Linked DNA regions of Homo sapiens: regions 1, 2 and 3 are each reported to be linked to region 4. Evidence: microRNA targets listed by miRTarBase, many of them from high-throughput screens and not tested one by one. Region 4 holds a microRNA gene; each other region holds the end of a gene's coding sequence.

Evidence for each region. The annotated mature microRNA hsa-miR-5684 reads AACUCUAGCCUGAGCAACAG and lies in region 4 at 4,242-4,261, opposite strand. An mRNA with a match to its seed (bases 2 to 7 or 8) in the 3' UTR can be bound and repressed. Matches are read on the target gene's strand: a 7mer-m8 pairs with bases 2 to 8, a 7mer-A1 pairs with bases 2 to 7 and ends in A, and an 8mer does both.
Region 1: miRTarBase lists HIVEP2 as a target of hsa-miR-5684. Seed matches in the 3' UTR shown: 8mer at 4,422-4,429.
Region 2: the mRNA of POLA2 is a reported target of hsa-miR-5684. The part of its 3' UTR that is shown has no 7-base or 8-base seed match.
Region 3: the mRNA of PRAMEF4 is a reported target of hsa-miR-5684. Seed matches in the 3' UTR shown: 7mer-m8 at 1,168-1,174.

Annotation. Positions count from the first base shown.
Region 1 is chr6:142,748,070-142,755,364 of GRCh38, forward strand. HIVEP2 (HIVEP zinc finger 2) reads right to left here. Exons shown (of 10, transcript NM_006734.4): 10 at 3,400-5,862. The coding sequence ends at 5,038. Among named protein-coding and RNA genes, the nearest start is that of HIVEP2, 190 kb to the right of the region's middle.
Region 2 is chr11:65,295,062-65,302,356 of GRCh38, reverse strand. It overlaps POLA2 (DNA polymerase alpha 2, accessory subunit), which reads right to left. Exons shown (of 18, transcript NM_002689.4): 16 at 6,758-6,817; 17 at 6,367-6,493; 18 at 3,672-5,237. The coding sequence ends at 5,088. It overlaps LOC105369344 (a long non-coding RNA gene), which reads left to right. Exons shown (of 3, transcript XR_007062727.1): 3 at 6,733-7,295. Among named protein-coding and RNA genes, the nearest start is that of CDC42EP2, 16 kb to the left of the region's middle. RefSeq lists enhancers at 1-514, 515-1,052.
Region 3 is chr1:12,873,366-12,880,472 of GRCh38, reverse strand. PRAMEF4 (PRAME family member 4) reads left to right here. Exons shown (of 4, transcript NM_001009611.4): 4 at 368-1,261. The coding sequence ends at 929. Among named protein-coding and RNA genes, the nearest start is that of PRAMEF4, 9.3 kb to the left of the region's middle.
Region 4 is chr19:12,784,098-12,791,392 of GRCh38, reverse strand. It overlaps MIR5684 (microRNA 5684), which reads right to left and starts at 4,265; the gene lies at 4,201-4,265. It also overlaps a transcript of HOOK2 not described here. RefSeq lists silencers at 1-168, 1,029-1,798, cis regulatory regions at 1-202, 1,042-1,562, 6,422-6,942 and enhancers at 1-544, 845-1,344, 2,249-2,818, 6,123-6,242.

The DNA.
Region 1 (7,295 bases), not on the chromosome of region 4:
TGCCACTGCACTCCAGCCCAGGAAACAGAGCAAGATGCTGTCTCAAAAAAATAAAAATCCATGGCAGGGATCTACTGCAGAATCTGAAATACATTTATAGGCACTTAGTGAATGGAGAGAAAATCTGTTGATATGATTCATTTTGATAACCAACATGTATTTCTAGTCTTGAAATCCTGGCTTCAAGCAATCCTCCTAGATCAGCCTCCCAAGTAGCTGGAATTACAGGCACAAGTCAATACATCCTGTCAAATGTATATTTCTGAAGGTGGCCTTAGTTGTTGATAAGCAATGGATATGTATGCATAAAATGATCCATCTAGAGAATTCTAGAAAATAGAGTTTGTGTCTTCTTCTTGTTACTCTTTAGGTACTGTTCGGTGCCAAGTAGAATAATTTCCACCACTTTCCCTGTTCTTCAGTACTACTGCATAGCCAAGCTGGTTTATTGTTGCATATAAAGTCTGGGTAAGCATATGTTTCTCTACACTCGGAAATTAATGGGAGCTGATGCTCTGTATAATGTCAAATTGCCCCTGGGAAAAAAAACTGTACTGTGGCAAAGTCGATGCCACCATATTTAGTAATATATTTTAAACTAATAAAGACCATTTCCAGGGCAGAAATAAGCTTTGTTGTTTTTGTATGATTCTGAGCCCATTCAACCCAACAACTTTCACAGTACATTATTGTGATTGTAATCTTGATCTAAGTGAGAAGAGCATAAATAATGAGAAACTGTTCTTTAAGCAAACCTGGACAAAGAGGTGGGAGCTCATTTTTAGCCTTGATTCTGTAATGAACCACCTATTTCTCCTTGAAAACTTCACCTAACTTCTCTAGACTACAGGTTTTGGAAAAGATATTTGTAAATGACAGGTTAATTTAATAACCTCTAATTTATTATTTAATAATGAAGCTACTATTATGCTACTAAGGAAATAGTAACTAATAGTAAATAATTCCACAAATGCAGTTGATTTTTTCTCAGAAAATGATGTTCTAAAAGTTTTGTTTTCTAGAAATTATCTTGGGGAATATATTGAAAATCAAGTTCTCAAAAATATTAAACAATTTTGTATCATTAAGGCTCAGCAGATGAGATGTGCTGTCCTGTGAAGTATACCTTTGCTCGCCCCTATGTTCTTTGTCTACCTTTGGAAACCCTCAAACTTCCTCTTCTACCCCTTTATATACCCTGAGGAATTTCATCCAATTCAGTGCTCTCAGCTATGATGAAAAACAAGAACTGACAAACCAGTCTCCAGCTCTGGCCTCTCTTGTTTGAGGTTGAACTCCTTCAGAACTGCTAAGGAAAGCTCATCTCTTTACCAGCATTCTGTACAAATCCACTCTCTTTTGTGGCTGAATAATGCCACCCTCATTCTATTGTCCAGGTTAAAAACTCATCATCTTTAACTTCTCCATCTCTTTCATCCCAGCACCAAATCAGTCTAGCTATCAGCCATTCCTCTTCATTAAGCAAAACTGTCCCTTCTTTCTCCAGGTCTCCATCATTTGTTTGGATTGTTGCTGCTTTTATTTCCCTTATCTTCGCTGGTGCCACAGTATTTTATTTTTCCCAAAATAATGATAACGACAACAATTAGCAAGGCCACTTTATTGCTTCAATCCTTCCTTGGTTCTCCATTGCTTACAGGGCCAGACCTGTAGGCTGGATTAGGAAATTGGACTTTGATATGTGTTTCTAGCTTAACCATGTACTACCTTGCCACATACCTAGGGTGCCAGCTACATCTTGCTTTTTACACATTAATTGCTTTACACATCTCAGATCAGATCTAATATGCGTTTTCCCACTAATTTTTTATATTGCCCTCTCCTCTAGAATATAAACTCCATTAAGGCAAGGACTTTATCTGTTTTGTGCCATATTGGACACCTAGCACACACAAGAGTACTCCAATGTAGGTGATGAAAAGCTACGTTGAATGAATTAGTCAATTTATTGTTTCAAGGATCTGTTCTAAGGCTACCTCTGTGATGAAGCTTTTCTTCATTCTCAGCAGGATGATTGCTCTCTCCAGGATGATTTCTCTCTCCCTTTATGGTTATAAAACCAAATGTGCAACTATTTTAGCTCAAACATCATATTATCCACATTTACTTACATATATGTCTTTCCTATTTACTTGAGCTCCTTGGTGGCACGGATACTCTTTATTAATTCTAAATGCCCACCACCAGGCTGGGAGCATTAGGTTCACACCTGTAACCCCAGCACTTTGGGAGACTGAGGCAGGCAGATCACTTGAGGCCAGGTGTTTGAGACAAGCCTGGCCAACATGGTGAAACCCTGTCTCTACTAAAAATGCAAAAATTAGCCATGGTGGCATGCACGTGTAGACCCAGCTACTCAGGATGCTGAGATGGGAGAATCACTTGAACCTGGGAGGCGGAGGTTGCAGTGAGCTGAGATAGCACCACTGCACTCCAGCCTGGCCTGCAGTAAGACTCTCAAATAAATAAATAAATAAATAAATAAATAAATAAATAAAAATAAAAATAAATGCCCACTATCGTACCCAGTTCATAGTTGGCACTCAATAACTTTTATGAATGAATGAATGACTGAATAAATGAGTGATGAATTAGGTAGAGGAGGAAACAGAGTAATTTGATTTGGCCTGGGATCACCAACACACACACACACACACACACACACACACACACACGCACGCACACATCAATGAGGAATATGACACACAAATCACCCTACATAATCAAAAGATTCTTCTTGGTAAGAGACAGATATTAGAGTGTCTGTGTTGACCTTTAAATCACCTTTGTAAAACACAGTTTAAAAAGACAGTCTGGCTCATAAAAGCAAATAGGTACATTGTAAATCCACAAATTTGAGATTTTTATAGTGAAAATACTAATAGGTTTTGACTTTTAATGAGCTTCTGCTCTTATTATTAAAAAGATTCTACTCATTCTAATAAAAGAACTGTGATTTGTGGGTATCTTCTGATATATTTTAGTTGATTCTTAGCTTCAGCCACCTTAGCAAAAAGAAAGAAGAGGTTTCCCCAGTGGAATTTCAGATAAGTATGCATACTGCAAGAGAGGCAGAGGAAAAATGATAATTTGCTTTATTCATGAATCTGTTCAGATGCAACGTATGCTGCCCAGGCCCATGCTGAGGTTTGGATAAGTCTATTCCTAGGGCCCACACCTTGGTGACCACTATCTGTTCTAATCAGATAATCTATGGAAGCCAATGACTGTCTTCTCACTTGTTAAAAGCATTCACACTCAGGATGGGCAGAGCCTAGCAATTAAAAGCACAGATGGTATGTTGCTAGTATCAAAATTACTTTAGAAACAAAATTGGGAAATTAAAATGTAAAGCAACACATAAGAACTAGACACCTCAAGCATGTAATTGTATATTTATTTCTCTTTTTAAAGAACACTCCTTAATGTAATTCAATATACAAACTTGGTTTCACAGAATTATAATCCACTATATAGCACAAAGATAACCCAGATTGTATGTGTGCGTGCACACATGTGCGTGCCTGTGCACATGTTGCTGCACCCCTCCCTCTCTTTCACTCTTCTGGACCTACAAATGCTCTTCCCACCTTCAACACTAACCAAAAGCCATTGTGAGTATTACATACAACAGACATCCTCCCACGAGTTCTTTGCCCTTGAAAGATTCTTTTCCCCATTCCCCCTGAGATAGCCAGGAGTGTGACACTCTTCCCCTATGAAAAAGGGTAAGGTGACCTCCCCTAACACAGATGTTAACCCTGTTCCCATGTAAACCGGCTGACAGGAAGAGCTGGGGAGCAGGTCTCCATCTCCTTTTCCCCCTTCCACACCCAACCCTCAGAGTCCAAGTGCGACCCTCTGTGTAGCCTTAGTTCCAGTCACCATCCTGTGTAGCAAGAACTAAGGAGATTGCTAAGCCCAGGTCTTCTCCATGAGCAGCGCACAGCACTGCCTGCCAAGCCACCGGGCCGGCCGATAACCAAGCTCTACACAGTCCCATGTGCTTTGTCACCTTAATTTTTTAAAGACACCTAGCATAGGTCTGTGGCAACCTAGTGTCCAACTGAGTTACATAAAATTGTACCAGTGATGCACTTGTACATATTTACATGGGGTGGAATGTTTTCCCATATTTTTAGATGAGTATATAGATCAACATGTTCACATAAGACCAAATACTTTTAATATTATTTATAACTGATTTATAAAGCTTTGAAAAAACTCACAATAGCACATTGTTTACTTTAATGCTTTACGGTACTATCATTTTAAAATCACAATCAGCACTTAAGTTATAGTCAATCCAGCAAACAAGAGACAAAAAAATATACAAGAGTTAAGAACTGACTGATACATCCTTTATCTTTTTTTAACTAATGCATAAGTGCAGAATAAGATACTCTAGTTTAAATATCTTGTTTACAATGTACATTTTTGTTCTAGTTACGCAACAGTAAATCCCATGCTTCACATAGAAAAGCAATCCACAACATTAAGAAAAAATGTACAATTTATGAAACAAAGTAAATAAATATTAGTATTACAGAATCAGAGCTGTACATAAAAGCTGTTCAGTTTTAATCATATAAAAATATGTTTTAGTGCAACCTCACATATATATTGATGCTGTTTTGCTTTACATCATTTAGATCCAAGTGTCCAAAAAAGGAAAGAAATTACATTTATTACAAAGCAGATACACAAATTCTAAAATATGTACAAATTACTGCTAAAAAATGCTTATAAGAATATAAGCAAAGTAAAGAAAAGGCACAAACATCTGTACAATTTTAAAAGTACCAGACCCAATAGGTTAATTTCAAATTTTGTTTTGGTCAGGCTCATGATGACTTGTTAATTTACCTAATTCTTTTGATATAACAAAAGTATATATAATAGCAAACTACTGTAACTTAGGACAGGCATGCTATAAACTGGATTACCTCCATTTCTAGAAAAACAAAAACAAAAAAATGGGAAAATGTGGAAATGAAAGTCTCCATGCATCATAGATCAATGTAGCTGACTCTTTTCTGATGAAGGATCTTTGCTTTCCTCTGTGCTTGAAGATAATTCCTTGCTGCTGTGAAAGTCCAACTGCTTGTCATCCACACAACTCTTGCTGTAAAACGTGGAGTGAGCTAATGGAGTCTGTGATGTACCAAAATTGTCCTTTTCACCATCATGCAAGTCAGGGTGGGTGGCTGAGGTACAGGGCTGACCTGGCTCAGGTCTACTAAAGTGTCTAATGCTAACATGTGCACTTCCCAGGGGGTTCTGGTGGGGCTCCTGCACCCGCGCTGGCTGATCTGGCCCGAGCAGAGCTGCCTCTTCCGTGGCAATCCGGAGAGAGGCAATGGCTTTTGTACAAGTCTGTATATTTTCCTCCTGTTCCCGCTCTGTTGCGTTTAGGCTGTCTTCCGAAGTGCTCTGTTTCATCAACAGCCGAGGAGAGGAGGGAGTGCTAGGTGGACCAGATGACTGCAAAGCGTGAGGACCTCGCTTCTCATGCTGCTTAGAAAGCACATAGGGGTCCTTGGAGAAGGACTCCCCTGACGCGCCTTTCTTCTCCTCAAAGCCCTCCATTGGCAGGGGCAATGTGGGTGAAGGATGTAAACTGGAAAGGGCTGGCGGCATGGAGTGAACCATCTGGATCCCACCAACGGGCACCATGGGGATAGGGGCTCGCACTTGTTGCTGAGAGTGGAGTGGAAGATGACTGAAGACATAGTCATTAGGACCCTCAGGGAAAAGGCTGGAGCCTGGATGTTCATAAGCACCTTCTTGGTCTCCATAGAGACTGAAGTAAGGAACCTGAGGTAATCCTCTTCTTAAATTCTGCGCAGAGAAACAAAGAGAGCACAAAATTCAGAGCCTGCTACGCTTCATTCTTAGGTCAAGCTGTTGGATTCATTCACTCACCCATTCACACATTCACTACCTAGAGAGGCTTCAATACCTAATTCTTTGATCAAGTTTTCCTATTTCAAGACAAAAGAGATTTCTCTGTTCTCTTTTATAATCCTTGAATAAAGGTGTCGGCCTGTGAAAAGTTGCTTTTGTTTTTAAACAGCAAGGTGATAAAGCAGTCAGGGTGTTTTCCATTGGGTACAGAGACACATTTCAGCTCTGTTTTTTTCACAAGAGATAATGAAAAGAAATTAATGGATAATTGGCAAAAAAAAAAAGTTTACTGAGCAAAAAACACTAATAAACATTAATAATATTTTTTTTAATTCAAAAGGAAATAAAAAGATTACCATCTGTTGCTATACTGGACAGATTTTTAATATTTTTCTTAAGTGTTGATGAGTATATAATTGGAATGACAAGTCTGAAAATTGGCTTTTTTAAAAAGTTTTCCACAGAACAGATGACAAAACAGTGGTGAGGATCCACAAACTGGTTCCTCCAATGTGTAAGACATTGGTCTAAAGGAATGCATTCCTGCTAAGAGATACTCAATGCAGAAGGCCAGCTTCTCCATCCAATAACAAACCAAGTCCATTTAAGTCTTACATCAATAATAATTTTTTAAAGGAAACTATCCATCATAGAAGTAGTTAACATTATTTCAGACAGTTAACAACTTATATTCGACTCTATACTGTGAACCAAAGATGACTGCATCTTAATTCTTTTGTTCATATTATCATTTCCACCTCAATATCTTCTTGGCAATCAATGAATTAAGGATGCTTAAAATGTTCAGCCAGAATTTCAGATTTCATAGTCCTAGTCCTGAAAATGGAGAATTTATTTTCTATACTGTTTCTGTAGTGAAATACAACTTAGATTGTCAGATTATCAGGTTTTAATATTATCATATTTTAATTAATGTGATTCATTCTTTAATGGATTGTCATCTAAAAAGGACTTCATTTATTTTTCTATTTTTTGAGAACCAAAGATAGATAGATAGATATAAACCCATACAGTATGGTAGTAGTCCAGGATAGAGCCAAAGAAACTGTTCTATTTCAAGAGTTTCAGTTCTAAAACTCAAGGTATGCTCTGCAGCATTAAAGATTCATCCAGTTCTATCTAGATTATGATTTCTGCTACTCTCTAAGATGCTTAGCCCTTACCCTTCTCTGTGATATATCATATGCAAGCTGGAAACATGGATTCTCCTGAAAGTGTGAGTGAAACGGTGCAATCATTAACACTATCGTTACCACGACCTCATAAGCTGGGAAAGGTGGGAATTTTACGGTATGAGAATCATTTAAATTCTGCACATAGACAAAATCCCCCTTGTATTTAATCAG
Region 2 (7,295 bases), not on the chromosome of region 4:
ACCCCTGAAAGGCACTTCCTCTGAAGCAGGAGCGGGGCTAGGGGTGCCTCTACCCAGCAGCTTTTCTCACTCTTTGGGTGGGGCCTGCTGACTCAGCACGAAAATGCTCAGCCCAAAATGCTTCAGCCCCTGGGAAGATCTGGGAGCGATGGGAGTGAGCAGAGAAGATGGGGCTTGGTAGGGTCCTGCTGGCTGCTGGGCAGAAGCCTGGGATCTCAGGGAGCAGTGTGCAGGGGCCAGGGTCAGCAAGGTTATGGGCAGCAGCTGTCCCTGAGACCTCCCAGGGGCCCCTTTGCCTGGGCAGCTGCAGGGCCTCAGCTGTCAGGCAGGCTCTGGGTGGGGAGGAGCCTAGAGCCCCGGGAAGAGGCGGGGCAGGATGGAGGAATTCAGAGCCAGCGGCAGTCCAGCTGGGTCTGAGGGCAGGCCAGCCCCTAGGCCCCTGGGCATTTCCAGGGCTGACCCACGAAAGCAGCAGTAGGCATGGTCGCTTGGGGACTGAAGACCCAGAATGACCAATGACGGTGACAGAAGGTCCCAAATGCCTGAATGCAGCTGGGAGTCTTGCCATGAACAACCATGGGTGTCTTCTGGTCTCTTTAGCCAGAAATCCCAGCACCTCTCTGTTGCCATCCCTCTTCCCTCCCCTGCCCCCAGGCCAGTCCCACCCTTTTGCCTTGTTGATCAGTGATGCTAAGTGCAAGTGCTGGCCAGAGTCCTCTCCATGGTGCGGATGTTGCCCATCCATCTCTCGGCCACCCTCCCAGCACCCAGTTCTGTGGCTTTTGACTGCAGTGACTCCCACATCTACCCCTCCAACGCCCATGTCTCACTGGAGTGCTGCTTCCAGTATTCCAATGGCCCACTTGGTGCCCCTCTTCCTCCCGACCTGCCCCAACAGACCCAGGCCCCTCCCCTGAGCCCCTCTCCCCTCAAACCACCCCTTTGCTACATGCTACCAGGTACTGAGGCTGCACCTGGGACTCCTCTTAAGTTGGTCCTTGTTGGGTGGTCAGGGTGAGGCACAGGGGGTGGGAGGCAAACCCTTCCAAGATTCTCTGGGGCAGAAAGAATCAGGTCCAAATGCCTTAGCAAGACTTCACAATCTGGCTCTGAAGCACCATTCCGGGCCCATCACTGCCTCCCTTCCCTTTCCCTCTTTTCTTTTACCCCTCTCTCGCCCTCTGTCCCTCCTCCCTCCCTCTCTTTGCCTTGTCTTCCTTCGTAAATCTAAAGCCCCTCCCCATTCCTAGGAACATACCCAAGAGAACTGAAAACAGGTGTTCACACAAAGCTTGCACACAAGCGTCCACTATTCATAATAGTCCACAAGGGGAAAAACCCGACAGTGGATGCACTGATAAAATACCGTATAGCCATACAGTGGGATCTTAGCCATAAAAAAGAATGGCGGACTGATACATGCTGCTGCAGGGACAAACCTTGAAAACATCATGCTAAGTGAAACAAACCTGACAGGCCGGGTGCAGTGGCTTACGCCTGTAATCCCAACACTCTGGGAAGCCGAGGTGGGCGGATCACTTGAGGTCAGTGGTTCGAGACCAGCCTGGGCAACATGGTGAAACCCTGTCTCTACTAAAAATACAAAAATCAGTTGGCACGGTGGCGGGTGCCTGTAATCCCAGCTACACAGGAGGCTGAGGCAGGAGAATCGTTTGAACCCGGAAGGTGGAGGTTGCAGTGAGCAGAGATCGTGCCACTGCACTCCAGCCTGAGTGACAGAGTGAGACTCTGTCTCAGAAACAAACAAAAAAACAAACAAACAAAACCTGACAGAAAAGAGCATGGGCCAGGCACGGTGTCTCATGCCTGTAATCCCAACACTTTGGGAGGCCGAGGCGAGTGGATCACCTGAGGTCAGGAGTTCTAGACACACCTGTAATCTCAGCTACTCAGGAGGCTGAACCCTGAGGTCAGGAGTTTGAGACCAGCCTGGCCAATATGGCAAAACCCTGTCTTTACTAAAAATATAAAAATCAGCCAGGTGTGGTGGCAGGCACCTGTAATCCCAGCTACTCAGGAGGCTGAGGCAGGATAATCCATCGAACCCGGGAGGCAGAGGTTGCAGTGAGCCGAGATTGCGCTACTGCACTCCAGCCTGGGTGACAAGAGCAAAACTCTGTCTCAAAAAAAAAGAGGATGTATTGTATGATTCCATTTATACAAAATGCCCAAAATAGGCAAATCTACAGAAAAGAAATTAGATTAATGATTGCCAGGGGATGGGATTAGACTGCTAATGGGTGCAGGGTTTCCTTTGGGGTGATGAAAATACTCTGGAATTAGATGGTGGCGAGGCCTGCACAACACCATGAACATACTAAAAACCACTGAATCATACACTTTAAAATGGGCATGGTGGCTCACGCCTGTAATCCCAGCACTCTAGGATGCTGAGGCGGGTGGATCACTTGAGGTCAGGAGTTTGAGACCAGTCTGGCCAAGATGGCGAAACCCCGTCTCTACTGAAAATACAAAAATTAGCTGGGCGTGGTGGCAGGCGCCTGTAATCTCAGCTACTCGGGAGGTTGAGGCAGGAGAATCGCTTGAACCTGGGAGGTGGAGGTTGCAGTGAGCCGAGATCGCGCCACTGCACTCCAGCCCGGACGACAGAGTGAGACTCTGTCGGGGTGGGGTTGGTGGAGTGAGAAATCAGCGCAGATGGCTACTCCCAGCAGTAGTGAAGCAGCAAGGCCAGGTTGAGCTGGGCCGGGTGCCCTGAGGTCAAAGGAAAGGAAACCCCAAGCCCCAGTGGCTGCAGAAGGCAGAGCTGGATGGAGGATCCGCGCCATGGCCCTGCCGGCCCCCAACCTTGGGTGCCCCTCGAGGCCCTAATTCCCTCGCTGCATTCTTGGCACCCACTTGGGTTCCCAGGAACAGCAACTAGGAGTGGCTTCTGTTCCCTCAGCAGCTCTCCCTCTCCCTCTCAGAGACTGGAACCCTAAAGGGAAGCCACGAGGCGGGTAAGGGAGGGCGGCTCCTTCTGCCAGGGCAGAGGCAGGGCAAGGGCATGGGCATGGGAGGCAAATCCTGGCAAGAGCTCGGGACTATTTCTTCAGGACCGTCTAGTTGGTGTCTCAAGGGCAGGGGCCATGACCAGATCAGGGAGAGGCCACCAAAGGGGGCTGAGGCAGACGGGCCTGACCTCCTGGGCACCCTCCCACCCTCCGTCACTGACACGCCCCCAGAGCCTGCTTGAGAATACCTGGGATGACAGATGCCTGGGGAAACTGGTGACACAGCTGAAGTGGGGTCTAGGGACGGTCAGCCAGCAGTCACTTGGCACCTTCCTGACAAGAGCAAAAAGGAACTGTCTGGTGGCAGAGGCACGCCTGCCAGACCTGTCTGCTCTGGTGTTAGCATCCCGCTTTCTCTTTGTCTGACTCTTAAATGCCTGCTCCGGCCCTCCCGGCCCTCCCAGATCATTTCCAACAGTCACACGACTGGTATCCAGGCAACCATTGCCTGGGCTCCCAAAATTCCACATCCGGAGGCTGACAAGTCATGGTGCCCCCGTGGAACACAGCTGGCTGCTTCATGTGTGGAGGAGCTGGGGGAGAACGGAAAAATCCACTCCCCACGCAGGGATGAGTTTCTAATTCTTGGCCTCAGAGGAGGTGCCTATAAAACTAATGAAATAAAACAGCTGCTCCTTGTGTTTAAAGGAAGACCTTTTACTGTACCCTGGTCAGGTCTGGGGCTCGATTCCATTTCACCGTCAGAAAGGTGAGAGGCAAAAGTTGGCCACTGTTAGGTCATCTATTTATCTCGGAGTCAAGGCATAGACACCAGCAGCTTGCTGCCCCCTTGCCCACTTCCCTGCCCTGACAGCTGGGGTTTGCCGGTCTTGGCTCTGGCATGTGAGGCAGGACAGCCTGCCAGCTTAGGGCAGGAAGCCACTCCACGTCTGGCCAGTGACAGCTTTTCCCCAGATGCCAGGACATAGGGGCATGGGACGTGCTGTGAACCCTGGAAGGCCTGACCCTGTCTGAGTGTTCTGGGCTGCAGGCAAGCCCTGGCTACTGCGCGACTTGGCAAAGCAGCTGCCACCAGGACTCCAGCTTTGGAACAGCCCAGCGAGGCGGCCCCCTCCAGATGGAGAGGTCAGGCTGGGACCACAGCATGCATGTGAGGAACTGCGCAGGGAGGCCCAGGCATGCAGCCAGTTGCTTGCTCTGCAGCCCAGCTCTAGGGCCCACCCAGTGCACCTCTGCAGCATAGAGGTCACTGGGGCCTTTGGGGGATGAGGAGTGGGGCTGAGAGTTACCCACTGGACAGGACTGGGGCTGGATAGAAACCCAGTGTGACTGACACTCTGCCTTCTCTGGACATAGGTCAAATAGGCAACATTCTTTGTCTACTACCAGGATAAAGAAAATAGAAGAAAGGGGCCGGGCGCGGTGGCTCACGCCTGTAATCCCAGCACTTTGGGAGGCTGAGGCGGACAGATCACAAGGTCAGGAGATCGAGACCATCCTGGCTAACATGGTGAAACCCCATCTCCACTAAAAATACAAAAAATTAGCCAGGCGTGGTGGTGGGTGCCTGTAGTCCCAGCTACTCAGGAGGCTGAGGCAGGAGAATGGCATGAACCCGGGCGGCAGAGCTTGCAGTGAGCCGAGATCTCACCACTGCACTCCAGCCTGGGCGACAGATCGAGACTCCGTCTAAAAACAAAATAAATAAATAAAAGAAAATAGAAGAAAGGTCAAACTCAGAAGTCACACTCAGAATTTAATTTCTCCAAAAGTTGTTTCTGTGTTTGATTCATGTAGAAAATCACAAAGCCTTCTCGCCTTTTCTGAGTGGGCGGGATCCACAGCTGGCTTACTTCTGGACACGGAGCATGGACTGAGAAGCAAGAGCTTCCTTCCAGGAGAGGCACCACTCAGAGGCAGGCCCGGCTGCACAAGTCCTCCCTGCTGGGCCTGGTCACTGCAGCTGCCCCTCCCTGGCTGGCTCCTCTCTCCTTTCCCACCCAACTGTTCACCTTGTCACAGGGCTATGTCTTGGCTCTTGGCTAAGACTTTAAGGGCCCACACAGCAGAGAACAGCAGAGGACAGAAGCCTCAGATCCTGACGACCTGCACAGCAATGCATGGGCTCTGCCTCTCTGCCCCGTCCGCTGCCGGCCTCCTAAGGTAGAGTCGGGCGAAGGTGCCTCCCACCTGCCCTTTGGTAAGGCGCCCAGGGTTCACACAGACACAGCCGAGGACATCCTGGGGAGGAGAGGAGAGGTGACAGGTTTGGAGAGCCTCAACTAACTGGGAACCAATGTGAAAAAGAAGTGCCATCACATGGCTGGACCCCAAAGAGGGTTTTAGAAAATGGAAACGAAGGCAACCAAATCACCAGACACATTTTCAGTCACTTTTTTTTTTTTTTTTTTTGAGATGGAGTCTCGCTCTGTTGCCCAGGCTGGAGTGCAGTGGTGAGATCTCAGCTCACTGCAGCCTCGACCTCCCGGGTTCCAGCGATTCTCCTGCCTCAGGCTCCCAGGTAGCTTGGATTACAGGCACCCACACCACCATGCCTGGCTAATTTTTGTATTTTTAGTAGAGATGGGGTTTTACCATGTTGGCCAGGCTGGTCTCAGACTCCTGACCTCAGGTGATCCACCCACCTCGGCCTCCCAAAGTGCTGGGATTACAATTGTCAACCACTGCGCCCGGCCTCAGTCACATATGTTAACTTGTCACTAGAAAGCTTTGAATTCCTTTTAAGTCTTTCAAACAGAAGAATGAGGTGACTTGGCAGAATGACAATCAGCTCCTAAACTTGGAGACAAACCTGATCTAGCTGTTTACTGCTTTCTCATGTGAAAAACTTTTTTTTAACCTCTTGAGATTGAACTAACTCTTGTTTGGCAAGAGGGGGACTGGTCTAGGCAGATTCCTTGTAAGGGACCTAACTCCAAGGCAGGCAGGGCTAAAGGGTGGCAGAGATCAAAATGACCCAATAGCTTCTTCAAGGTATTCCCAGCTGAGCCCACTTGGAGGTCATATCAGAATTTGGGAGGCAGAGGACAGGCAAGTGTACATATGAAATCTTCCCCAGGTCACCTCTATGTGGCCTGGTGAAAGCCCTCATTTGAGGGCCTTCCTAGTCATCTGGGCTCTCGTTCTCTTGGGGAGGGAGGAGAGGACACTGTTTACTCAAGCATTTTACTGACAGAGTTGTTTGTTTTCTGGTCCCACCACCTCCCCAAAGAAACAAGGCCACAGGGCAGGGTGCTAGAGGCCCCATCCCCATCAGCTGACCCATGAGGGGTGAGTGCCGGGTGGTCTAGAAGGGAAAGTCAAAGACTGGGTTCTGGTGTTTCTGGGAAAAAGCAGAGTTCAAACCTACCTTCACGAAGTACCTCAGCTCTGACGGGATGATGAGGACATCTGGGGTGACAGGCAGCTGTGCGTAAACATAGAACGACTCATAGTCAATGGCCATGTCTTCTTGGGGCGGGTAGAGTGGGTAGTAGCTACAGAGACAGAGAGAAATTGTCAGCACTAGCTGACCGGGGGGCCCCCTTCTCAGACAGAGTCCCCCTAGGTACTGGCTTTCGTGCTGCTGGCATCCACAGACCGACTTTTTCTCTGTGTGTGTGGGGCAGAATGCAGGCTTGTCATCACAGGGTAAAGTTCCCTGCTGGTAGCCTGGTGAAGGCTCTTACAGTCATGCTTGTCATAGCTCCATGACCCCAAGGCACTCTCTCCACAGTCAGGGGTCCCAGCGGCAAGCTCACCTCCTCTGGGTCAAGATGTGCTTGAGTATTCGGCTGAATCTGTCTGAAGTTCCGGAAGAACTGGGAAAGAAAAGAAAGCATGAAAACAGAACTCTGTTTTTCAGCCCATTTCTCTTCAGGGAGGACTGGAGAATTTAATAAACCAGAGAGAAGGTAAATGGCCAAGGCACAGCAACAAGAGGAGGATGCCTCTGGGGAAGTTTAAAGACCCACCCACAAGGAGCTCAGTCTGTCCCCACATGAGGAGGGACGCAGGACACCAGGTTGAGAAGGGAAAGCACAGGAATCCCTCATAATCAAGATCAAGGAAGGCCATTAGCCAGCACCGTACTGTGCAAGAGGATGCAAAGTTGGCACCATCATGAGGCGGGTGTGTAGCCAGGCTGACCTGAATCTCAAACCTCAGCCAAGGAGCCGCACCCGTCTCGCTTCACACGCGAGTCGCTTCACATGCCCCTTCCCATCAAGGATGACGGCAGAACGGAGCTGCCCAACTTCAACTCAACAAATTTGTCAGGGCCTGATTCTCTGCAGAGCT
Region 3 (7,107 bases), not on the chromosome of region 4:
TCCCAAGTAGCTGGAATTGCAGGCTCCCCCCACCACACCTGGCTAATTTTTGGATTTTTAGTAGAGAGGAGGTTTTGCCATGTTCAGCAGGCTGGTCTCAAACTCCTGATCTCAAGGAATCCACCAGTCTCAGCCTCCCAAAGTGCTGGGATTACAGGTGTGAGTTACTGGGCCGGGTCTAAAGTGGAATTGACCTCGGTGGCAAAGCTCTTCATCACACATCATCCTAAGTGTTGACCATCAGGCCATCAGAATGACCCTGGACTTGGGCAAAAAGGTCTCCATCCATTACCTTGAAGCCATTCCCCACCACCCTCCACTCACCCCTATGATTCCCCAGAATTAACTTCTTGCTCTCTCTCCCCAGCTGTCTGAAGACCTCGTTAAAGTTCCTCACAATAACTAACTGTGTGCTTTTGGAATCAGACTTGAAGCATCTATCCCAGTGCCCGAGTATCAGTCAACTAAAGACCCTGGACCTGAGTGGCATCAGACTGACCAATTACAGTCTTGTGCCTCTCCAAATTCTCCTAGAAAAAGTTGCAGCCACCCTTGAGTACCTGGATTTAGATGACTGTGGCATCATAGACTCCCAAGTCAACGCCATCTTGCCTGCCCTGAGCCGCTGCTTTGAGCTCAACACCTTCAGCTTCTGTGGAAATCCCATCTGCATGGCCACCCTGGAGAACCTGCTGAGCCACACAATCATACTCAAAAACTTATGCGTGGAGCTGTATCCTGCCCCCCGGGAGAGTTATGGTGCTGATGGTACTCTCTGCTGGAGCAGATTTGCTCAAATTAGGGCTGAGCTGATGAACAGAGTGAGGGACTTAAGGCACCCCAAGAGGATCTTGTTCTGTACTGACTACTGCCCTGACTGTGGCAACAGGTCATTTTATGACCTGGAGGCAGATCAATACTGCTGTTGAATGCCTGCCTATTTGGATGGGTATGTCAAACGCTTTCTTCTGGACACTTGGAAACTAAAACCTAGGTCTTAGGTACATCCTAAAGGGAGCACAGAACCCATCATTTCACACATAGGCTCTGAAAGTGGGAAAGGAAAGCTGATCAAGCAGGGGCCGGACTTGGGGGAAATGTTGCCATGGATTCGATGGGACTTTGGGGACCTGTGTCCTGTAGAGTCGAAAATGGGAATCTGAATGTCTAGAGTGGAATTCAGGCTTGAGAATACATGAGGGAGTTACTCTTGCATGGATGGTTGTAAAGAAACAATCAGAAATAAAGGAAAACTGAGCAGAATCTGTCTGGTGCCCTCTATTATTAAGTAACCTGTTTTCCAGTTTAAGCCTCAGGAATCTTCAGTTATTGATGGAAAAAACAAAAGGCACTGACTGAGTTGTCCAATCAATAAGATGCAGCCCAAGAAAATCAAGGCATTTAAATGAAATTTGGTTATTGTAATCAGTTTCCTCCCATTCTTTTATTGGAGACAGAGTTTCACTCTTGTTGCCCAGGCTGGAGTTTAGAGTGCAATGGTGCCATCTGAGCTGACTGCAACCTCCACCTGGGGTTTAAATGATTCTTCTGCCTCAGCCTCCCAAGTAGCTGGGATTACAAGCATGCACCACCATGCCCAGCTAATTTGTGTATGTTTAGTAGAGACAGGGTTTCCTCACTATGTTGGTCAGGCTGGTCTCAAACTCCTGACTTTGGGTGATTCATGCAAGTAGGCCTACCAAAGTGCTGGGGTTACAGGTGTGAGCCACTGTGTCAGGCTTTTTTGTTTGTTTGTTTTTTAAAGGTCTCCTGTCACTCAGGCTACAGTGCAGTGGCACAATCATACCTCACTGCAACCTCAATTTCCGGGGTTCAAGCGATCCACCCACCTCAGCCTCCTGAGTAGCTATGACTACAGCTGTGTGAGCCACCACACCTGGATACTTCTTTTTAGTAGAGACAAGGCCTCGCTGTCTTCCCCAGGCTGATCTGGAACTCCTGAGCTTGTGATTCTCCTGCCTTGGCCTCCCAAAATGCAGGGAGTATAGGCGTGGACCACCACGCTTGGCTTGGCCTCCTCCAGTTCTTCACTTCTTTAGATGTCTGTTAACTCCTTGTTAGTTTCTGTGGCTGTTCAGTGGGTTAATACACACTAGGTGGACACCAAAGGCCTGGAACATTGCTGGGCAAGAACAGTGAGCCAATCCACACGGAAAGCACCTTCTTCTCAGGGTCTTTCACCGCTATCCAGATGCTGAGACCCTGCCCACTCCCTGTGAGTCTCCACATGCTTCCAGAAGCCTTAGTTGGTGGATGTCAGCTTCACTGCACAAGGAGCCACTCTCTTCCCGCTGCCCTGGAAGGGGATGTCCATATTGTGTATTAGCTGGAGACTCTGGGCAGCATCAACCCTTGCTTGTTCTCCTGATGACCAGCAGCCCTTCTTGAATTAAACTGGTTGTAGCCAGTAAAGACAGCCACATTCCCTTTAAGTAAAATACTAAAACTATACAGGCATATAACACTTTTTAAATATTTCCATCTGACATTTTAAAAGTTACATCTTTTGGGGGAGCTAGGTCAGATTGATGAGAGATTTTCTCATAACACCTCCCCTCTCTCCCTATGAAGGAAGAGACTAGTGCAGCGTGTTCTGGAATCTGACAGCATCAAAGGGTGGATAACGATCAAGGGCCTGTGGGTGATGAGTGACCTTCCCTGTGCTGAGGAATTCTGCATAATGGGCACCCAAGTGAAGGATCCTGCTGTGTACTCAGGGGCTGGTGTTGCTGTCAGGGATGTTAGCCTAGAGCCTCAGCTTCCTGTAAAATGAGGATGATGATGTCCAACAGCTTATGGGACCTTGGTAGGATCCAATGAGATGGTTCATGTTTAGGGCTTGGCATGGGGTCTGGCATACAGTAAGATCAATACATCTTGTTCTTTTTTCTCTTCTCAGCAGAAGTCCCAGCACTTTTCATCTTTCAATCTCACCTCCTTTTCCTGATAATAGAGAGGCAACAAGAACTCAGGGCATGCAATGGGGCTCAACTTCTACTCTCTGCCACAATTTCATCATGATTGCCCCAAAGAGCAGAGCCCCAGGAGCCAGCAGGGGGCAGGGTGGGCATTTCTGGACTGGATTCATTCATAATAAGATCAAAATTTCCAATCCGTATGTCTCGGGTGCCATCTGCTGATAGATCCGACCAGATGGTATAATTGAGTGTTGCAAGGATTATATTTTATGGTGTTTTTAAAAATGTACTATTATGAGCCAGGTGCAGTGAGTCATACCTGTAATTCCAGCACTTTGGGAGGCTGAGGCAGGTGGATCACCTGAGGTTGGGAGTTTGAGACCAGCCTGAGCAACATGAAGAAAACCCTTCTCTACTTAAAATACAAAAAATTAGCCAGGCGTGGTGGCGCACGTCTGTAATTGCAGCTACTCGATAGGCTGAGGCGGGAGAATCATTTGAACCTGGAGGTGGAGGTTGCGGTGAGCTCAGACTGAGCCATTGCACTCCAGCCTGGGCAACCCTAGCAAAACTCCGTCTCAAAAAAAAAGATAAAATAAGATTTATTATTATGGCCGGGCATGGTGTCTCACACCTCTAATCCCAGCACTTTGGGAGGCCAAGGCAGCCTCAGGATTTTGAGACCAGCCTGGCCAACATGGTGAAACCCCATCTCTACTAAAAATACACAAAATTTGCTGGGAGTGGTGGCATTCGCCTGTAATCCCAGGTATTCAGGAGGCTGAGGCAGGACAATCACTTGAACCCGGGAGGTGAGGGTTGCAATGAGACGAGATGGCACCACTTCACTCCAGCCTGGGCGACAGAGCATGAAAAAAAATTTACTATAATGTGAATACTATTAGAGTATAAATATTTGTGTTGTAATTTATGTATATGAAAGATTAGAACTTTTAAAGAATGCAACGTGATATTTCAAGAATGGTTAATGGCCAGGTGTGGTGGTTCATGCCTGTATTCCTGGCACTTTGGGAGGCCGAGGTGGGCAGATCACGAGGTCAGGAGTTCCAGACCAGCCTGGCCAACATGATGAAACCCCGTCTCTACGAAAAATACAAAAAATTAGCCTGGCGTGGTGACAGGTGCCTGTAATCCCAGATAGTCAGGAGGCTGAGGCAAGAGAATCGCTTGAACCTGCGAGGCAAAGGTTGCAGTGAGCCAAGAATGCACCACTGCACTCCAGCCTGGGTGAAAGAGGAAGACTCCGTCTCAAGGAGGGTGAGAAAAAGAATACTTAACTTGGTTTGAAATGTCAAAACAAATGAGATTTTAAAAACTAATTTTAAAGACACTGAACAATAATCATTTCTTCTTTAAAATATATTTAGAATAATACAATTTTAGCTTTGAAAGGAAACATTACAGTTTTAAAAAATATTGAGTTTATTTTATTTTATTTTATTTTATTTTATTTGGAGACAAAGTCTCACTCTGTTGTCCAGATTGGAGTGCAGTGGCATGATCACGGCTTACTGCAGCCTTGACCTCCTAGGCTCAGGTGATCTCCCTGCCTCAGTCCCCCTAGTAGCTGGAACAACAGGCATGCACCATCATGCCTGACTTATTTTTGTATTCTTAGTGAAGACCAGGCTTCACCATGTTGCCCAGACTGGTCTTGAAATTCTGGGCTCAAGCGATCCACCTGCCTCGGCCTCCTAAATTGCTGGGAGTGAGTTCCTATAGGCATGAGCCACCGCACCCAGCCTTGAGTTTATTTATTTATTTATTTTGGAGATGGAGTCTCCTTCTGTCATCCGTGCTGGAGTGCAGAGGTACGATCTCTGTTCACTGCAACTTCTGCCTCCAGGATTCCAGCAATGCTCCTGTCTCAGCCTCCAGAGTAGCTGGGATTACAGGCATGCAACACCACACCTGATTAATTTTTGTATTATTATTATTATCAGTTTTTAGTAGAGACAGGGTTTTGTCATTTTAGCTAGGCTGGTCTGGAACCCCTGATCTCAGGTGATCCACCTGCCTCGGCTTCCCAAAATGCTATGACTATAGACGTGAGCCACCACACCCAGCCTATTTTTTCCTTTACAGCAGTTTTAGATTCACAGAAAAACTAAGCAGAAACTGCAGAGTTCTCATCTACCTTCTTCCCCCTTCAATACACAGCACCCCCACAGGATCAGCACCCACACCAGCACAGAGCATTCATCACAACCAATGAGCCACAGGGACACATCATTATCACCCAATGTCCATAGTTCACATGAGGGATCATTGCTGGTTTTGTACATTCTATGGATTTTAACAAAGGGATAATGACATGTATCCACCATTAGAGCATCATGGAGAGTAGTTTTCTTTCCCTAAAATTCCTCTGTCCTCTTCCCATTCATCCCATTGTGCTCCCAACCCCTTGCATCCACTGGGCTTTCTACTGTCTCCTTAGAAAAATGCAAAAGCTTTTTCTGGAATGTCTAACAGGATGAGTCTTTTCAGATTGCCTTCTTTCACTTGTACAATAACGTGCATTTAGGAATTTTTCATGTCTTTTTACAGCTTTATAATAGTTCACTGACTGGATGGATCAGTTTGCTTATCCAGTCACTGACCGAAGGGCAACTTGCTAGCTTCCAAGTTTTGGCGATTATGAGTAAGTTGCTGTAAACATCCAGGTGTGGGTTTACTCACTTCATTAAATATCCAGGAGCATGATTACGGAATTGTAGGGGTATGGTATGTTTTACAATGATTTCTTCTTTCTTGACAATCTCACTTGTTCGATATTGCTGCTAAAGGTCAGGAACTTTGTCTCCATCATCCTGTGTTCCCACTGCTGAGCATGGAACGTGGCACTTGGTAGCAAATGCTGTTGACCACGTGATGCATGGAAACGTTTATCATGGGTATAGTCACTAAATTGCTACCTTGGGGACATCAACATTAGCTCACTACCAATAATATAAATAAATTGGATTATGGAAAAAAATGGCCCTTGTGATACTGTGGATACTCCAGGTGTATCATGAACGTCCAGCAATTGACCAGGCACAGTGGCTCACATCTGTAATCCCAGCACTTGCAGAGACTGAGGTGGGTGGATCACTTCAGTCAGGAGTTCAAGACGACTCTGGCCAATATGATGAAACCCTGTCTCTATTAAAGACACAAAAATTAACTAGGGGGTTGAGCCAAGATGGCCGAATAGGAACAGCTCCAGTCTACAGCTCCCAGCCTGAGCGGTGCAGAAGACGGGTGATTTCTGCATTTCCAACTGAGGTACCAGGTTCTTCTCACTGGGGAGTGTCAGAAAGTGGGTGTAAGACAGTGGGTGCAGTGCACCGAGCATGAGCCAAAGCAGCGTGAGGCATTGCCTCTCCTGGGAAGTGCAAGGAGTCAGGGAATTCCCTTTCCTAGTCAAAGAAAGGGGTGACAGATGGCACCTGTAAAATCCGGTCACTCCCACCCTAATACTGCACTTTTCCAACAGTCTTAGCAAATGGCACACCAGGAGATTATATCTCGTGTCTGGCTCAAAAGGTCCTATGCCCACGGAGCCTCACTCATTGCTAGCACAGCAGTCTGAGATCAAACTGCAAGGCGGCAGCAAGGCTGGGGGAGGGGCGCCTGCCATTGTTGAGGCTTGAGTAGGTAAACAAAGCAGCCAGGAAGCTGGAACTGGGTGGAGCCCACTGCAGCTCAAGGAGGCCTGCCTGCCTCTGCAGACTCCATTTCTGGGGGCAGGGCATTGCCAAACAAAAGGCAGCAGAATCCTCTGTAGACTTAAATGTCCCTGTCTGACAGCTTTGAAGAGAGTAGTGGTTCTCCCAGCACGCAGCTGGAGATCTGAGAATGGACAGACTGACTCCTCAAGTGGGTCTGTGACCCCTAAGTAGCCTAACTGGGAGGCACCCACCAGCAGGGGCAGACTGACACCTCACATGGCCAGGTACTCCTCTGAGACAAAACTTCCACAGGAATGATCGGGCAGCAACATTTGTTGTTCACCAATATCCACTGTTCTGCAGCCTCTGCTGCTGATACCCAGGCAAACAGCTTCTGGAGTGGACCTCCAGCAAACTCCAACAGACCTGCAGCTGAGGGTCCTGACTGTTAGAAGGAAAACTAACAAACAGAAAGGACATCCACACCAAAA
Region 4 (7,295 bases):
CCCCCTCCTCGAGCGTGGGGAAGGGGAGGAGGCGGCTCGCGTCACTGTCAGGAAGCGCGTGTCCTTGTAAACAGCGGCCACGGGCCGGGTGGCTCGGCGGGGCTGCAGGGGGAGGGGCTCAAAGGACCTCGGGGTACGCATGGAAGGAGGTGCTGGGGGGCCCAGGCACATGAGTGAGGGGTTTCAGGGAGGAGGATGATTTCCCTGGAGTCCACTGGGACAAATACCAGGACCTGGTACGCAGCAAGTGGGGTGAGGGTCCCAGTATGTGCGAAGAAACCCCTGAGGTACCCAGAATACGAGAGGGGTAGGAGGACTGACAATCCATTGGGAGACCCCAAAAAGCAGAAATGAGGGTTAAGCACTGTAAATCGGGAGGGTTAAGGAGACACCTGACCCAGGAATTGACTGGGGGTCCCGGGCTCAGAAGGATGCGGGACTGGAATTTTCACAGGACGGAGGAGGGGAGAGATCAAAAGGGGTGAGTGGGTGGAGCTGCATGACCCATTAAATTGCAAGAAATGAGTAGGGGTCCAGGAGCTCATGGGAGCTGAGTCCAGAGTCTGAGGCTCTCCCGTAAGCGGGAAGGAGGCATTAGGGGAAGTCTAGATATGCAGAAAGCTAGTAAGCGGCCTGGGGTACACTGAGGCAGGTAAAATATGCCAGGTAGAAGATGGAGACATGTCTGCCAGAAATTGGGGACCACTGGGGTCATCTGCTAGCCCGGATGAAGGAGAGAGTTAGAAGGGGCCGGACACATCTTCGGAGCAGAGAAGACAATAAGAGGGTACTCAGTTGACATGTGAGGAGGGGGCCTTGAGGGTCCCGCGCACCAGGACTGCTGGATCTTCCACGACTGCTGCTCCCCCTCGATGGTAACCTCTTAGTCATCTGTATTCTCTGTCCCCCATCCTAAAACCCTCCCCTATTGACCCTGGGCTTTGCCCAACACCGTGTCGGCTCCTAGAGCCTGGACCCAGCCCGACGGCTGGGGCGCGGTCGCCCAACCCCACTCCCTTCCTTAGAAACAGGCTGGGGAAAGAGCGCAGAGGCAGGAAGTGTGGCAACAGCCCCGGGGGAAGGAGCCCGGCCCTGTCTCCGTCACTCGGATCCTACGGGACCGTGCGCCCCGCCCTGGGTCCCGCCGCATCCTGCGCCTCGGAAGAGGAACCTGGGCGTGCGAGCCCCCGCGGAGGCCCGGGTGCTTGGAGCCCGCCCAGCCGCGGCAGCCTCCAGCCACCATCCTCTCCCCTCAAGCAATGGTTCCGCCCGCGGTGCCTGCAGGGGACCGCGGAGGCAGGCGGCTTGGGGAGTGTTCCATTGGCCCGACGGCGGGGGACGCAGCCGAGGAGCGGGGCCTGGTCGCCATGGCAACAGGCGGGAGTCCGCGGGCAGGACTGAGCGCGGGCCGGCCCCCGAAGTCTCTCCCCGCCGCCCATATTAGGGCACAGGAAGAGGTGGGACCAGCGCTGTCCTGGGGCCCCGAGCCAGAAGCGGGGAACCCGACTATCTGCCAGGTCCCAGGGCGCGCCTGGGCCCCCAGACTGCTAGTCCCGACCAGCCCCGACCGCCGCCCCCGGGGCCCCCACGGCCGCCTGGCCCGGCCCCGCCCCACCCCGCCGCTTTGGGGCTGCGTCCTGCCAGGCCCGGCCTGGCCCAACCCAGCCCGGCAGGTCCCCGCCTGCCCGCGGGCCTGGGTCGGACTTCGCCCCCGGCCCGACGGGGCGCGGAGAGGGCGGGCCGATGCCTCGAGGCGCCCCCGGCGCCTGGGCGGGCTGGAACGGCGGCTGCCTCCTCCCTCGGGTGGGGTGCCCTTCCCTTCTGCCAGGAGATCTGGAGCTCCGTCCCCAACACCCCCCACTCACTCATGTGAGTCAGGGGCCCCACTCTCGTTTTAGTCTGCAGGTCCCATCCTACTATCATCCAGAATACCTAGAGGGAGCCCCCCTCCTTCCCTAGAGTAGCTCTGTCATCTGAGAGCTTCCCTCCCCGAGTCAGAGAAGACCTGAAAATCTAAGGGGAGAATATGAGGGAACCCAGAGCCCCTTCCCGGGAAGGGCTGCGGCGAGGTGCAGACGGTCAGGCTTCCAGTTAGACTTAAGGTGGGACTTCCGAGCAGTTAGTGTGTGAACCCACTAGACCAAGAGGTGAGAAGCCTAGTGTCTCTGTCTCTGTCTCTGTCTCTCTCTCTCTCTCTTTGTCTCTCTCTCTCTCTCTCAGCTTCCCAGGCCTCTGTCTTCTGGAGGATGAAGAGAGCCTCTCTCTTCTTTAGGGTAGAAAGAGGCTAAGGGATAGGGGTTAAACAGCCATTCCGGGGCAGCCTAGATCTCACCAAGTGTGGGAAAGAGAAGGAAAACGAAAGAGGCGAAAAAGAAACTGAGCTATGTGGGGGCAGGGGGAAGTCCAGCAGTGCAGTGGCCTTGCTGGAGGAAGGTCCCAGCAGAAGCTGGGGGCGTCCCGTCCTTGGAGGGTCCCTGTGACCCCTAAATGCCCCCTCCCTTCTTCCCCTTGCTTGAATGGCTCCCCTCCCCCTCCCCAGGCTCAAGGGAGATTCCGGAGGCCTGTGAGTCTGGCAGGCACACTGCCAGGCCTGTGTCTCCCGCCCAGGCTAATAACTGCAGCTGACATCTGGCTGGGCCCCGCGGGGGCGCAGCGGGCAGCGTTGGGGGGTTGGGCAGGGCAGGGCAGGCCAGAGGGCAGCACCTTGGGAAGCTAACTTGCAGGTCCCAAAAGCCAGGAGGCCACAGTAATTCAGCCCTGGCCAGGGCTGAGGCTGGCCATGCCAGAGGGAGTCCTAGAGAGAGGTGAGGCCATCCCAGACAGAGTCCATCCCAGGAGGAGGGCAAGGAACAGTGGGTGTATGGGGGCAGGGGCGCAGGGCAGGGAGAGATGCCCAGAGAGACAAATGGGTTCAAGGTTAGTGTCACGCAGACAGTGAGACTCAGAAACACTTAAGATAGATAGGCTGAGAAATAATAATTATTATTTTAATAGCCAACACTTACATGGCTCTTACTGTGGGCTAGGCACTCTTCTAAGTGGTTAACATAAAATAAGTCATCGACTGCTTCCAACAATCCAGCAAAATGCATGTTATTTGTATCCCCATGTAACAGATGAGAAACTGAGCCACAGGAGATTAAGGAACTTGTCTGGTGTCCAACAGCTAGAAGCACTAGAGTTGAGATATAATCCAAGCTGTCTGGCTTCAGAGCATTAGCCACTGTGTTGTGAATAATGACAACCAGAGAAGCATGTATGCAGTACCAGCTGCAGGCCGTCTCATGAAGGGCCTCTTTTTTTGGTGTTTTGTTTGTTTGTTTGTTTGTTTGTTTTTTGAGATGGAGTCTTGCTCTGTCGCCCAGGCTGGAGTGCAATGGCATGATGTTGGCTCACTGCAACCTCCGCCTCCTGGGTTCAAGCGATTCTCCTGCCTCAGCCTCCTGAGTAGCTGGGATTACAGGCGCATGCCACCATGCCCAGCTAATTTTTGTATTTTTAGTACAGACGGGGTTTCACCATATTGGTCAGGCTGGTCTCGAACTCCTGACCTTGTGATCAGCCCGCCTGAGTCTCCCAAAGTACTGAGATTACAGGCGTGGGCCACCATGCCCGGCCCTTTTTTTGTTTTTTTAAAGAGAACCTCACTTTGGCCAAACACAGTGGCTCACGTCTATAATCTCAGCACTTTGGGAGGCCGAGGGGGAGGATCACTTGAGCCCAGGAGTTTTTTTTTATTGTTTGTTTTGTTTTGTTTTTTTGAGACAAAATATCACTCTGTCGCCCAGGGTGGAGTGCAGTGGCACAATATCAGCTCACTACAACCTCCACCTCCCAGGTTCAAGCTATTCTTCTGCCTCAGCCTCCCGAATAGTTGGGATTACAGGCGCATGCCACCACGCCAGGCTAATTTTTTGTATTTTTAGTAGAGATGGGGTTTCACCATGTTGGCCAAGCCGGTCTCGAACTCCTGACCTGAAGTTATCTGCCCGCCTCAGCCTCCCAAAGTGCTGGGATTACAGGCATGATCTACCTCGCCCAGCCCTAGCCCAGAAATTTTTGAGACCAGCCTGGGGAACACAGCAAGACCCCCATCTCTACAAAAAAATTTAAAAATTAGCTGAGGTCAGGAGGGTGTGCCTGTAGTTCCAGCTACTCCGAAGGCTGAGGCAGGAGGATCACATGAGCCATGATCTTGACACTGGACTCCAGCCTGGGCAACAAAACAAGACCATCTCACTCTGTTGCTCAGGCTAGAGTTCAGCTACACAATCATAGCTCGCTGCAGCCCTGAACTCCTGGGTAAAAGCGATCCTCCTGCCTCAGCCTCCAGAGTAACTGGGACTACAAGCACACCACAACTGCTAAGTTTTATTTTTTTATATTTTATTGAGACAGGGTCTCATTCTGTTGCCTAGGCTGGTCTGGAAGTCCTGGCCCTAAGGGATCCTCCCACCTGGGCCTCCCAAAGTGCTGGGATTACAGGTGTGAGCCACCGCACCCCACTGAGGGTCTCCTTTAATTGGGGGAGAAATGTGGTGGGGCACAGACAGAGGGGCACGGGTCTCTGTGGACAGGCCAGCATGTGGGAGTAGGGTTCCTCCAAACACTCTGCATGGGTGTTTGAGCACGGGGTGGAGATTGGGCCAGACAGGGAGGGCGGGGGCCCAGCCAAGCTGGTACAGCCGGTTCCAGGCCTCTGCCAGTGTCACCCTTGTGGCCTGGGCACCACCCCCTCAAGCCGCCCCACTGGCGCCAGGCCGGCCCCACGAGGAGGGTGGGAGAACAGCCCCCTCCCCCAACTGGCCTGAGCGTCCAGACTGGCAGCTGGGTACTGCCCAGGCCCTGGGCTCCAGACCAGCACCTGGCTAAGAAGTCCCTGCGCAGGCTTCCCCAGTGCCCCAGGGCCTGGGGCCTAGGGCACAGGATAAGGAGGAAGTTCACCCACCCCCACCCACAAGTGTCTTCGGGGCTTTTGGTCTTGGCACGAGGGACTTCTCCTTCTTATAAATAGCCCGGTGACCCCCCTCCCTGCTGGCCCCACTGACCAGTGGGGCCCTCACTAGGAAACTGGGCTGGGGGCTGCCTGTGAGTCAGCCAGTGGGCAGGCCAGGGCGAGAACCCACAAATCGCAGCACACAGCACCCAGCCTCCCTCCCGTGTCCCTGCCCCTGGGTGTGGATCTGAGGCCCGGCAGGAGCCCTCCCCCAGGAACTCCTGGCCTACCAGCCGCCTCCCTCTCCCACCTCTGTGGTTTGGGGGTCCTTTGCCCCCTCTCCTGGAGAGGAAGCTGCTAGGTTTTCTTGGAAGCAGGAAGGAGAGTCTCTCTCTTTCTCTCTCTCCAGGCTGACATGGTTGGGCATGAGGGGAGTTTCTCAGGAAGCTGCTTCCATCCCTGCCACTGCTGGTGAAGCCTTGGGGGACCTGGGCATCACCAAGACCCTGGGTGACCTCTTTATAGCAGGCCCCCACCCCAGCAGGAGCAGAGGCTGCTGAGCTAGGCCTCCTAGGGGAAGTGGCAAAAGCAAAGAGGGAGGGAAGTGGGGGTGATGTTTGGAGAGAGGAAGTGCCAGGATCTCTGTGGGGCAGAGACAGACTGGGGTGTCCAGTGCCCCCACAGAACCTTGGCAAGGTCCAGGGGGCAAGCGTGTGACTGGCCTATAGGGTGCATGTGAGAGTGTGTGCTGGTCCAACCCTGACACCCAGGCCTGAGAGACAGGAGTAGCCCTCTGCCCGCTTCTGTGCCCAGCCCTGGATGCAAAGGTCTATGTAGGGCTTATCTGTGTAGAGTTCTGTTCCACTCTGTGTGTGTGTGAGCTCTATAGGATGGGTTGCACATGGTCTAGATGTATGTACGTGTAGGTTGTTTCAAAGTTCCTATGGCTAACTTGTGTCGGTGTGTATGTGTGTTTGTGTGTGTGGTCTGTGGCTGGTCTGTATGTGTGTATATGATCTGTTTGTGTGTGTGTAAAAGAGGTCTGTGGCTGGTCTGTGTGTATACGATCTGTAATGTGCATTTGTGTGTGTGTGAAAAAGAGGTCTGTGGCTGGTCTGTATGTATGTGTGTATACGATCTGGTGTGTGTGTGTGTGTGTGAAAAAGAGGTCTGTGGCTGGTTTGTGTTTGGTGTGTGTGTGTGGTCTCTGTGTGTGAGGTCTGTGGCTTGTTTCCATGTGTGTGTTCTGTGGCTGATCTGTATGTTGCCTGTTACTGATCTCCGTTTGTATGTGTGCATGTGTGTGTGTGCAAACAGGTTTTGTCATGGTCTTTCTGTGCCGATGTGTTTATGAATGTCCCACTGTGGCCTGTCTGTGCCTCTCTGCACTGGGTGTGACTGTCTGGCCAGACCATGTCTGTGAATGTGTCAGTCTGCCCAGATCTACCCAATCTGTTGCCAGGTCCCACATGTGTGTGTTCCTGGTGAGATGGTGTGTACCTCTAAGGCTTCGGCTTGGTGTCCCTGGGAGCATCTCTGATGTGTGTGCAACAGTGGTGGGCCAGGGTGCCAGGGACTCTCTGCCATACTGTGAACACATCATCTCTGTCCCTAGGTTTGTCTCTCTTGTCTTGTCTCTATCTTCTGAGTTGGAGATCTGGGGTGTGTGTGTGTTGCCTTCTCTTGCGTGTCAGGATCTGATAGTGCATGCCTGTGTCTGCATATCTCTCGTGTGGCTCTCGGGGTGCTGGTGCTGAAAGTGACTGTCTCTCCTATCAGCATGCACATGTTGCCTGCTTGTCTCACATATAGTTCACTCTGTGTCTGTCTTGCCCCTATGTTTCTAGCCTATTGTGTTTGTCTCCATGTGTGTCACACGCCATTGTGTCTGCCTTGCTGTGTGCCTCTCACCTGAATGTCAGTCTCTGTGTGTTTGTGTCTATCATGCTTATGTGCTGGGTTGATTTATCCCCGCCGCACACGGCCTGCCTGCGTATTTTTGACCAGTGGATGCGTTCATGTGTTTGACGGTGTGTGTCTCTTGCTTGAGGGTCTGGTCTGTCACTGTGTCCATGTGTGACAGTCATTGCTGGATCATCTTACCCAGCTGTATGTCTGACCCTGTCTGTGTGTCCCTGGCTGGCAGTCTCTCTGTGGCCAAGGTGACAGGGGTTTGTGTGTCTGGACTGGCTCTCTCGGGGTGACTGTGTGTACATTCCTACAGCCCCCCGCCCGCCCCCTGTCTGGTCACCCTGGGCCATGTTTACTCTGCCCCCAGTCAATGTCTGCCCTGCCCCGGGAGGGGCTGACCCTCCTCCGTCTGTCCAGCCAGCAGTCCACAGGATGTTCCCGAGACACA